2 linked regions of the Homo sapiens genome follow. The protein of the gene in region 2 purifies or fractionates together with the protein of the main gene of each other region. This does not show direct contact. Each region holds a gene or a part of one and is shown on either strand. Other genes may lie near its edges.

Region 1 (5,319 bases), on a different chromosome or scaffold from region 2:
TCCTCCTGCCAAGCTGGCGATATAGTCCAGGCCATCTGCAATGTGGACCTTCATTCGGTCACTCTGGGAGAAGCCAAACCACTGGGTGGCCACTTCCAACATGGAGGGATCGATCTCCACAGCATCAATGCAGGACTTTGGAAAATGATCGTGGACAAAGAGGGGGAGGCTGCCCCCGCCCAGGCCTACCACCAACAATGCCAGTGGGATCTCTGTAAGAAAAGAATAGAGCATCACATTGCCACCTGTTCACTGGAAAATTCTGTACCAGCCTCAGGGAAGGCAAAAGGGAAAGTCAGCTCACTGTCTCCATTCAGGGGATACAAGATTTAGAGGTCTCCCTGTCTCATTTCAGAAATCTAGGAGTGAATTTGACATCTGATAACTGAATCCTGGATTCATGATGACTAGATCCAGAAGATGAACTAGTGTGTTATTATTATTGTCTCTTAAAGATCTCAAAGTGGCCAGGGGCAGTGGCTCACACCTGTAATCCCAGCACTTTGGGAGGCCGAGGTGGGCAGATTACTTGAGCTCAGGAGTTCGAGACCAGCCTGGGCAACATGGCAAAATCCTGTCTATAGAAAGTAGAAAAATTAACTGGGCATGGTGACACACACCTGTGGTACCAGCTACACGGTAAGCTGACGTGGGAGCCTAAGGAGGTCAAGGCTGCAGTAAGCTGCGATCATACCACTGCACTCCAGCCTGGGCAAGAGTAAATCCCTGTCTCAAAAAAAAAGACTTCTTCACTATAAGAATTATTAGACCCTCTCTAGGAAAGGGAAGAAGAGTGGCCAAACAATCTTGCTCATGATTACAAGGCAGCAGAGGTGCAATGTCCCTTGCCCTTGACTCAAAAGGCCACACCGTCTTCTCAGACACCCTCACCAAGTAAGGGTAAGCCATTCAAGTTCCACAAATCACAGGAAAACAAAGGCCCAACTCCTACTCCTAAGCACAGAGCACAGCCACCACAGGGGGATCAAAGGAAGACAACAAAAGTCACCCGAAGGAGACAGACCCTGAGAATTAAATCTAAGAACTGAGATTCTAGTGACATACATCAACACTAAGATAGGACAAAAGTATAGGGTATTCCAAGAAGGCACATTCAGGGACTTCAGGTGAAAACGGTTACAATCACAGACAAAACATGAACAATTTCACTAATGCAGTCAGATCCAAACCTGCTATTAGCGATAAGGCTATGACTGCATTAACTATAATATGAATCTTTTCAGAAAGTAGAAATTCAAGATAGAATTGCATCTTTTGTTCAAATAATGCATTACAGAAAAGCTGAACAATTAAAATCTGTGTATTTTTACATATCTCATTGAATACATGATATACCTTAATTTTAAAAAGAAATGAACAGAAAAAATACCACTTAGACTCTAACATATTTCAATACAATTTCAATATAACAGGTTGAGTTTGAGGCAACAGTTAATTAGAATGCTCATTAACTTATAACATGGTTGAGATGAAGAAAGATACATTGTCAGCTTGTAATTGCTGTTCTTCAACTACAATGCAAGTGACACCAATTGTTTAGGTCTGTAATCTTTATGCTCCCTTCTGTGGAAGGCAGTGGCATCTCTCTCACCTAGGAGTAGCTCTGGGTTTCTCAGCAGGGCAAGGCCAGCGATCATGGCTTTGTGGTGTTCACAACACAGGTAACTCTTATCAATGGACTGCCCCGGGGCTGCAGGGAGGTCCTCCGCATCAGCAGGCCGCTGCTTCTTCCTGTCCTTTTTCCGCTTCTTCTGGGCTAAACAAGAGATATGAAGCCCTATGCTTAGTACACTAGTCCTCAGGAAGCAAGGGTTACTGGCAGCAGTGTGCTCCAGATGGCTTGAACACTCAAAAGACCCAATCGTTAAAATTTTGCAAACTGGTTGACATCATGTTGATAGCTTGAAACTGGCCGTAGTGAAATCATCTGGATGTTTGTCCCCTACAAATCTCACGTTGAAATGTGATCCCCAATGTCGGAGCCACCATGCTGGTCACGGGGGCAGATCCCTCATGAATGGCTGGGTGCCTTCCCCATGGTATTGAGTGAGTTCTCACTCTAGAGCTGTTGTTGAAAAAAGCCTGGCATCTCTTTTGCTCCCTCTCTTGCTATGTGATGTACCTGGTCTCCCTTCACCTTCTGTGATAATTGTAAGCTTCCTGAAGCCTCACCAAATGCAGAAGTTGGTACCATGCTTCTTGTACAGTCTGCAGAACCATAAGCCAAAATAAAAGTCTTTTCTTTACAAATTATCCAGTCTCAGGTATTCCTTTATAAGCAACGTAAAACAAACAAATACAGTGGTGGTATTTATACTAGAGAACTGATAAACACTATAAATTAGGATGTGCCCCCCCTACCCCGCCCCACAAAGACATAGTCATTAAACATTTAACATATACAATGGATACAAGGAAGCTGGAAAAGGAAATGGCAAATGCACACTCAAAAACCTGGGAAAACTCAACTGAGGAGCCCTGGTACCTCCCGTCTAAGAAATGTAAGGCCACTAACAGGAGAAAAGATTACTCATAAAGTCTTTTAAAGAAAGGTAAAGTTACTAATCACCTGCTATGTGCCAATTACTATACCGTAACTTTTATTTTTTTAGCTCTTCTAACAACCTTATCATTCCAATTCTTGGCACATGAACACACTAAGCCACTGAAGTGTTAAGTAAATAGGGAATCAGCAGATGGTAGAGATAGGAGTTGATCCTCGGACTGCCTGTCTCCATCACCTATCATCTTTCTGCTATGCCACACAGGTAGCACTACCAACCTTTGCTGAAGAAGGAAATCACAAGTATTCAAAAAAGGAAATAAATCCTAAAAAGCCACTCCACTTTCCCTCTCACCACTCCCTTCCCTGCTCCAGGGTATCATACTAAACGGATGGCTGTGTCTTCATAGGGATCAGCTGCATTCCCCAGCAGTAAAAAGTGCTGATGAGTGGAGTCGGGGTGCTTTTCAGATATATTAAATCACTTTTTAATATGCTCTCCTTCTTGCTCACCAATACTCCCATGAGGGAGAACGTTCTTTCCATGAGAACAAAGTGCTACCAAGAAATCAAGGAACATGACAATGGTGAAAAAACCTGAAACCCAAACTGAAAGGGGCAAAATGTTCTTTTAAGCAATTTTACTGAGATTTTAGTGAGATGAAACTGGACCAACCTGCAGCCACAGTGACCAAACAATAGGGCAGAAACCCAACAATCTTGGGTGCTCTTGGCCAGGGAAAACCCCTAAAGAAAAATACCATTTCGCTGGGTAACTTGATTCTAGGCTCAGAGCCAGTCTATGACCTCAAGCATCTGAATTCTCTGTCTCCACCCTCCTCCCAGATGGCCTTGCTATGAGGGCAGGCCAGTCAGGCAAAGGGAACAACTGGGAATCAGGAGAGCCATTTCAGCTTCCATCCTTGAATCTCTGCGCCTCAGACAGGGAAGATGCACTGGAGACGGAGAGGTGAGGGGCATTCACTTTTCGCGGTCTATATTTGACTTTTGAAGTGATTTCAATGAACAAGTATCACTTTTAAAATACAAACTAACACAGGTAAAACAAACTATTGATTCCCCATCGGGGGAGTTTCTGAGTGACAGCTGGGAGACCACTTAAAGGGATCCTAGAAGAGATGGTTTAGATCTACACTGTCCAATACTAGCCACTAGCCCCCTATGGCTGTTGAAATATAAATGTAAATTAATTAGAATTAAAGAAAATTAAAATTCAGTTCCTCAGTTACACTAGCCACATTCCAAACGCTCAGCACTACATATGGCTAGTCGCGACCACATTAGAAACTCAGGAACTAAACATCTCCTTCATCACAGGCAGTTTTACTGAACAGTGGTATACTAGAAGGCCTCTAAGTCACCCGCCAATCCAAAACCCTCTGAAACAGGTGAGTCACACTATGGAGGGCAGGGCTCACCTGCAACTTCCATAGTTCTGGCTCACCTCACAGAGGCCTATTGAAACAATACACAGATGTATATGGAGCACCTGCAAAACAGATGCCTTTAAACCGAAGACATTAATGTGATTATCACTGTATTTGGTTTCACTACTCACGTCCCCTATCACTTCAGAGCCAGGCTCTGCTCAAGAACAGAATGTACTCTGCTTATAGCTATTCACACCCTAAGAGTCCAGATGGTTAAGAACCTACAGACACCCAGGTCCATCCTACATCTCGGCCAAGCTCCCAAGAAATCTAGTCCATGCCACGGCCACTTGGGTCCCACCACTGTGCCTATGACACCTCACCTTTGTGAGACACATCCTTCAGCAACCTGGCTTCGGACTGCACCACATTCCTGTTGCTGAGGAAGATCAGTCGACGGAAGTATCGCTTGTCATCCCCTTGCACATCCTCAATGACATAGTCACCGCTCAAGGGGCTGCAGTCTTGGTGCTGAACGGTCCGGACCCCAATGTCCCCACCCACAGACAGAAAGGGGACCTGAAGGTACAACCAGAGATGTGGTCAAAACAGCAGCTCATTTAAGAAATAAGAGAAATTATAACCCCTTCCCTTTTGTGTGTATATATCCCCATACCACGGTTCTAGACAACAACTACTCCACAGATTTGCCATTCTATTAAAGTACTTTTCTGGAGCCTTTGAACTGATCTCAAAGGTTTAATTCATCTTTTGAAAATCAACTGGACACATAAAGATCTCCCAAACAACTAGTGAGATGCAGCTGATTCTCCCCAAGTTCTTTTAGGGGTTTTTCTCATCAGTAACCCCTAAAAGAACTCTCAATAGTCCAGGATAACAAAAGCTAGAGGGAACCCTCAGGAAGGGGCTGTGATTATGAGAAGGAATCTACACAAGAATAAAGATAACAAAATCCATGGGAGAAACAACCACTCCAAATCTAGAGAGATATTCCTTTCCCCTGATTATTCTCATCTATTTTTCCCCCACTTTTCTGAACCTTAGGAGAAAAATATACTTTCCCCCTAAACTTTCCCACTCCTTCCCCCTATCTTTATTTCTTTTTTTAAAGACCTATAAGACTAGTTAATAATCACCAATATCTCCTGACCCTGCAGACTCAGGCACTGGTGAGAGGCCACAAATGAAGCTCCTCAGAGGATCTGGGCTTCCTTGAAATAGGGGTCATCAACCCCAAAGTTGGCCAGGAAGAATCAAACTTACATTCATCTGTAAACACGAGTCAGCCTAGTGGGCAAAACCACAGGCCAGGAACCCAGGAGCCTGGGTTCTTTTTTTTCAGATCTGTTACTATTTGCACCAAGCCTCTAGATACCTTTGCTT
Region 2 (5,319 bases):
CCTGATCAAATTCAGGTTTAATTATTTGGCAAGACCATGTCACGGGTGATGTGTGCACTCCTATAGTACTTCCAGGCCCATAATGTCTGGTCTTCCTCTGTGATGTTAATATTTATCAGGATTTGGGACAGTTTGATAAATCCATTAGAAATTTTTGTTTTTTAATCAGCTTTCCACTTAATGGTTTTGGCAGCCATTGATGACTGCCCATATCCATAATTTTATTAGGGGAAAATTACATTTTGATTACGTATCGCTGGTTGTTTTTGTTCAAAACATAGGTTGTATGTTAATCTGCCAGTACATTGGCATCTTCTGGATGAGGGACTCATTAGTCTTCTCACAAGAGTCCCTTTTGTTCATTAGCTTGTGGAATTTGAGTGTCTGTATGTTTTTTTTTTAATTGTTTGTTTGGAGGGGAGTTGATAAGCTAATTAGCTATAGAGACAAATTTCATTTTTGCTTAACTGAATCTCACTGCATGAAAAGGCAATCTAATTCTCCAACCTACTTTGGTAAGGTCTGATGACTTCTGTGGGCATGACCTTCAGAAGACTGGTTGGTCCTCTGTTTTGGAAGATCCTTGAGTGCCAAGCACATGATACATTGATGATCTGCTTAGTAAGAATAAATGTTGCTCCTCAGTTTGAGAGGTTTTTGCTGTCTTTGAGAAATATTTTCCCAGACATTCTAATGTCTAAATGCCATTTGAGTAGACAATCTTCTTCAATCCATGCCTGGTAAGTAGTGGGGTTCTGTGTAGCCAGCTTATTACACTAACTTCTCCTGACTCCAGTCATAGCTCCTTATTATTTTGTCATCAATGATGTTAACCAAACCAAGGAACATATTTGCTACTTTTCATATATCTCACTCCTTCCTTTTTCACTATTGTCTTTGTAGAACTCATAACATGTTTAAGAGGAAATTAAATACTGCATGTACAGATCTGAAGAGCTAGAGGCTGTATCTATAACCTTGCCGGTTTAAAGCATAGATCTTGAGTCCAAAAAAATTAAATGGGTACTGAGATCAAATTCTTGGAGGAAGAATATCAGGCTCTTAAACAATTTCAATGTCATAAGCAAGTGGGCCTCCAATGGAAAATCCCAGGTAAAAAGACACCTTCTCTATGCTTCTGCCACTTCTAAGTTGACCTAAAAAAGCGGGAGTGATGGGTATTGTGATTTTTTCATTGATTCCATATTCTATATATAAACAATTGTTTTCAGCTCGACCTTGTAAACGAAGCAAAAGTTCTTGGACTTTTTCCTCCTTCCACACATCTCCACTCTGCCACAAGGAATTAATATCTGGTGTCTTCTTAAAGCACTGGTCAATTTTTCCTTTGTGAACAAGTCTTTCCAGTCTTTTACCTTTTCCAAGAAAGAAATATGCAATTGGTTGCTTTGTACGATGCATATGTTTATATTGCCCCTTGAAAGAATTTTTTAGTGCTTGAGCATACTCTTTCATTTGTTCAGAATGTTGATCTAGTTGTTGATTTTCTGGCCAGAATAAGAGGGAAGCTAGAAAATACGGTTCTGAAAACTGATAAGTCAGTCCTATTGGTTGCAAGACTTCTCGAAGCTGATCTTTTAGTTTTTCAACTGGCTTTACTAATCTGGAGGTAGGTTGGATACAGGAGAGAATAATGTTGGCCAAGATGAAATTTAGCTTTTCTTTTGACTGGATTTTGACAGTGCATTGTTCTAAGAGAAAAGTATATTCGTTCACTATACATTTCATAGTGCTTATAGCATCCTCTTGACTTTTGATAAGATATTCCAAGAGCCCAGAAAACTTGTCTGCTTTTAAAGCTACTAGGTTTCTCCTGCATCTCTCTACTTGAAGTGGCTCACTGAACTTTGATCCAAGACCTGTGTTGTTTTGTGATTCTTCTAAGAGACAAAATATATCTACATATTTCTTAAAATATCCAGCCACCTTTCTCCGAGTTTTGGCCTCTTCATTTTGCTTAATATTGTTCCTGGGTTTTAGCAGGACAAAGTATTCATCAAAAAAATCAAAGGACTTTTTCAAAGAAAATTTCAATTTAGTTAAATAAGGAATATAGTTTTTGAGGGCTAATTTATATTCATTGTTTGGATCCCCTGGAATATCACTACTTCCTGATACAAAATTGACCATATATCTTTTAGATAGCTCATTTTTATTATCAAAAAAAGGAATGAGCTGGAGAATTTGGATTGTGTAAAGCCCAACTTCTATCTCTCCTTGATAACCAGCTATATTGTAAGTATCATACCGCCTTTTTGACTTCGGATACAATCTTTCCTTCACTTCATACTCTCTATCTTCACTTTGCTGTTGAGATTCTTTGAATGCACTTGAGGCATGTTCTGCTAAATCCAAAAGAGCAATTAGATCATCAACTGAAATGTTCCCGTTTCCTCCGTTTTCCTCTATCCACCATCTTATTTTACTTTTGTAGACTTGACCCAGTGTATCTGAGATATAAGAATTGTCAGGTTCTATGATTTTTGCTTGTTTTGCCCAGTTTAGAGCATTGCCAAAGTCCTTCTTTTTAATGTAGAAATGTCTTGCCAACGCTTGGCAAATGAATGCATTTGGGTTGAACCGATGGATACTTTCAAGCAATACAGCTTCAACTGCTTCATTTCCTTCATCTTTATGTAATGCTTCAATAAATGGGGAAAACCAATTTCCTGTTTCACCTTCATGTTCATCGCGGTGTCTTGTGAGTAGGAGTGTGTGCATATCTTGCAAAAATTTACTTTTTCCCATACCAGTATCGAAGAACAAATTCTCAGTTAGCATATCCAACATAATTTGACTTTTATTCAGGTGATAGCTTTTCTTCAATTCTTCCAGTGAGAACTCTGCAATCAAAGAGTGAATGATGCGTACTCCACAGTAGTTCCCACATTCGATGACCTCTGTTTTTATCAGAATTGTAGAGTAGGTGCCCATCTTGTCTTCAAATTTTTCTGTCCCCCAGAAAGCCTTCTTGTTTCCAATTCCTAAGAATTTTTCACACTGTGATAGTGAAATGGTGGTATCAGGCACATATGAATTAAGAAGAGCCAGAAAAGAAAAGAGCTTTGCTTCCTTGGTGAAAATATTCTGCCCTTTCAGGATATTCCGGACCACATTTTCTATGTATTCTTTATTAAAATTGGTTTTCATGATCATAAAGGAATAAAAATCCTCAAAGTTTTTATGCTGTTCTTTGATTTCTTTCAATTTAAGCTCAAAAGCTCTCTGTTCTTTGGGAGAGAGTTGCTGTATTACGGCAATACTGTCTGGGATCCTTGCACTTTTTTCAGGATTTTGTGATCTCATACAATTTAGGATAATCACCAGAGGTTTTTCATATCGAATGTACTTTTTAGCTATAGCTGTTTGAATAGAGTACTGCAGAAGATAGACATTATCTTGTTCTTCAAAATCATCAACAAGGAGTAGTACAGGTACGTATTCCTGACGGTTCATTGCCCCATAGGTGATTAAACTGGTTACCTGTTCTCCAATTTCAGAAAAATCCACTGTCTTGTTTTTCAGCACAGCACATCTGAATTTCTTCCTTAGTTCCCAGAGAATGTGCATAGCCAAGGTAGTTCCCCCACAGCCTGGATGATGATACAGATGAATAATTTTGGTACTTGTTGGTTTAGAAGAATCTGCACAGTTTTGAATCATTGCTTCAAGTCTTTCATATTTATCCCTTTTGACAAAAGGTGAAGAATAACTTTCAGAAGAGAAGTAGAAGTTCCACCATGACACTTTGCCACCTCGATAGAAGTCTTCCTCTTTTGATGCCTTGAATTCAAGGAATTTATTTTTGTCCTTCTCTAACAGTGTACCCTCACATTCATTTTCACAGATAATTTCCAGAGCAGTCATGATATCTTCTTCCTTTTTCAGAAGGACAGTCGATAAACCAATAGATGGCAAAAGCCTTTTTGAAGATTGAGTCACAGATTTTAGTTTAAGAATAGTGCCATTGATCTCTTCAAGGCTTAAAGCAGAAATACATTGGCTTGAAATTTCATCTTGGTGTTTTATTAATCTTGCTTCAAGTAGATCTTTCCATCCCTGAAATATGTGTGGGTGCACACAAATACACAGTATATTTTCCATTCCTTTGAGATCCTGGTAGAAAGCACAGAAAGTCTCAATGAGGGGATCTCTTGGGTCATCCACAGAGGACAGTAATAGAAATACCACCAAAAACTTCCCTCTTGGCATTATGTCTTCATGTGTAAGAAATGAAATCAGTTTCCTGACATCAGAAGCTCTTTCTCTTTGCCAGGAACTTGGATCAAAGGGTTTATATTTTTCACTGTCAAGGTCTAACCTGCCATTGCAGAAAATCCAGCTGGGTTGATGGTAAAGATTTAGAGTAGAAATCGTCTCATTTGGTGTGGTTTTCTGTTCTACATATACACTTGGAAAGTGAAGGTTTGCTACTCGGCTTTCTTTGTAAGCTTTGACCACTCCATTGATGTTAGACTCAGGATCAAACTCCAATACAGCAAACCATTTAATTTCCTTCAGGAAATCTAAGTGTTTTGTTTGATCTGGGTGGCATTTATTTGTTACAAGAATGTACTGTTCATAGTATGAATTATCTAACAAATCTTGATTTCCTGTCAATAATTTAACCAACTTTGGTCCCTCTCTTTCTTTTTTATTTGTTTTTGCTCTGAATTTTTCTTCTGCTGCTTTTCTGGACTCTGCCAGTGTTTTAAAATCTGCTTTAAATGCTCTGAAATCAACTTTATTTTTCGTAATGTCCTTAGAGCTGGTCCCATCTCGCACAAATAGTGAGAATTTTTTACTTTGTTCCCATATTTTGTTGTTGTAATTTTGCATTTTAATCTGGAAATAATCATATTGGCATTCAGAGAACTGTGGAATAATGTCCACTTCAATAACAAATCTGTCAGATAGAGTACTATTTGGCAGTAAAACTTCCACAAATCTTGGCTCTCGAATGCACTTCTTTGCTTGTTGGACTTGATGGTCTTCAAAATACTTGTTTATCATCAGATTGAAATGGTTAATGAGGGCTTCCTTGGTATCATTGGTGACTTTGATGCCAACAATTTTCCCATGGGGTTTGTCTTTGACTCCAAAATGAATAGTGCCATTGGTACGTGAATTCATACAAGCTGAAGCAAATCGGAAAACCTCATTGCTAAATTTCATCTTGACATCCTCTTCTGTGGCTGTTGCTGTATTTGTGAAGGCTTTGAATTCATGTATCGGATCAATGAGATTGCCTGGTCCTGTTTCAGGCTGTAGACTAAAATCCAACTTGTAACGATATGG

The links. The genes of interacting proteins can lie anywhere in the genome.
Region 1: the proteins of SAMD9 (region 2) and METTL13 fractionate together in Homo sapiens (co-fractionation; one large-scale study listed by BioGRID). This does not show direct contact.

Annotation. Positions count from the first base shown.
Region 1 is NC_000001.11:171,786,910-171,792,228, reverse strand, and holds part of METTL13 (eEF1A lysine and N-terminal methyltransferase), read right to left. Parts: intron 4,495-5,319; coding exon 4,299-4,494; intron 1,778-4,298; coding exon 1,613-1,777; intron 213-1,612; coding exon 1-212. UniProt on the Homo sapiens protein: Dual methyltransferase that catalyzes methylation of elongation factor 1-alpha (EEF1A1 and EEF1A2) at two different positions, and is therefore involved in the regulation of mRNA translation.
Region 2 is NC_000007.14:93,100,266-93,105,584, forward strand, and holds part of SAMD9 (sterile alpha motif domain-containing protein 9), read right to left. Parts: coding exon 1,063-5,319; 3' UTR 1-1,062.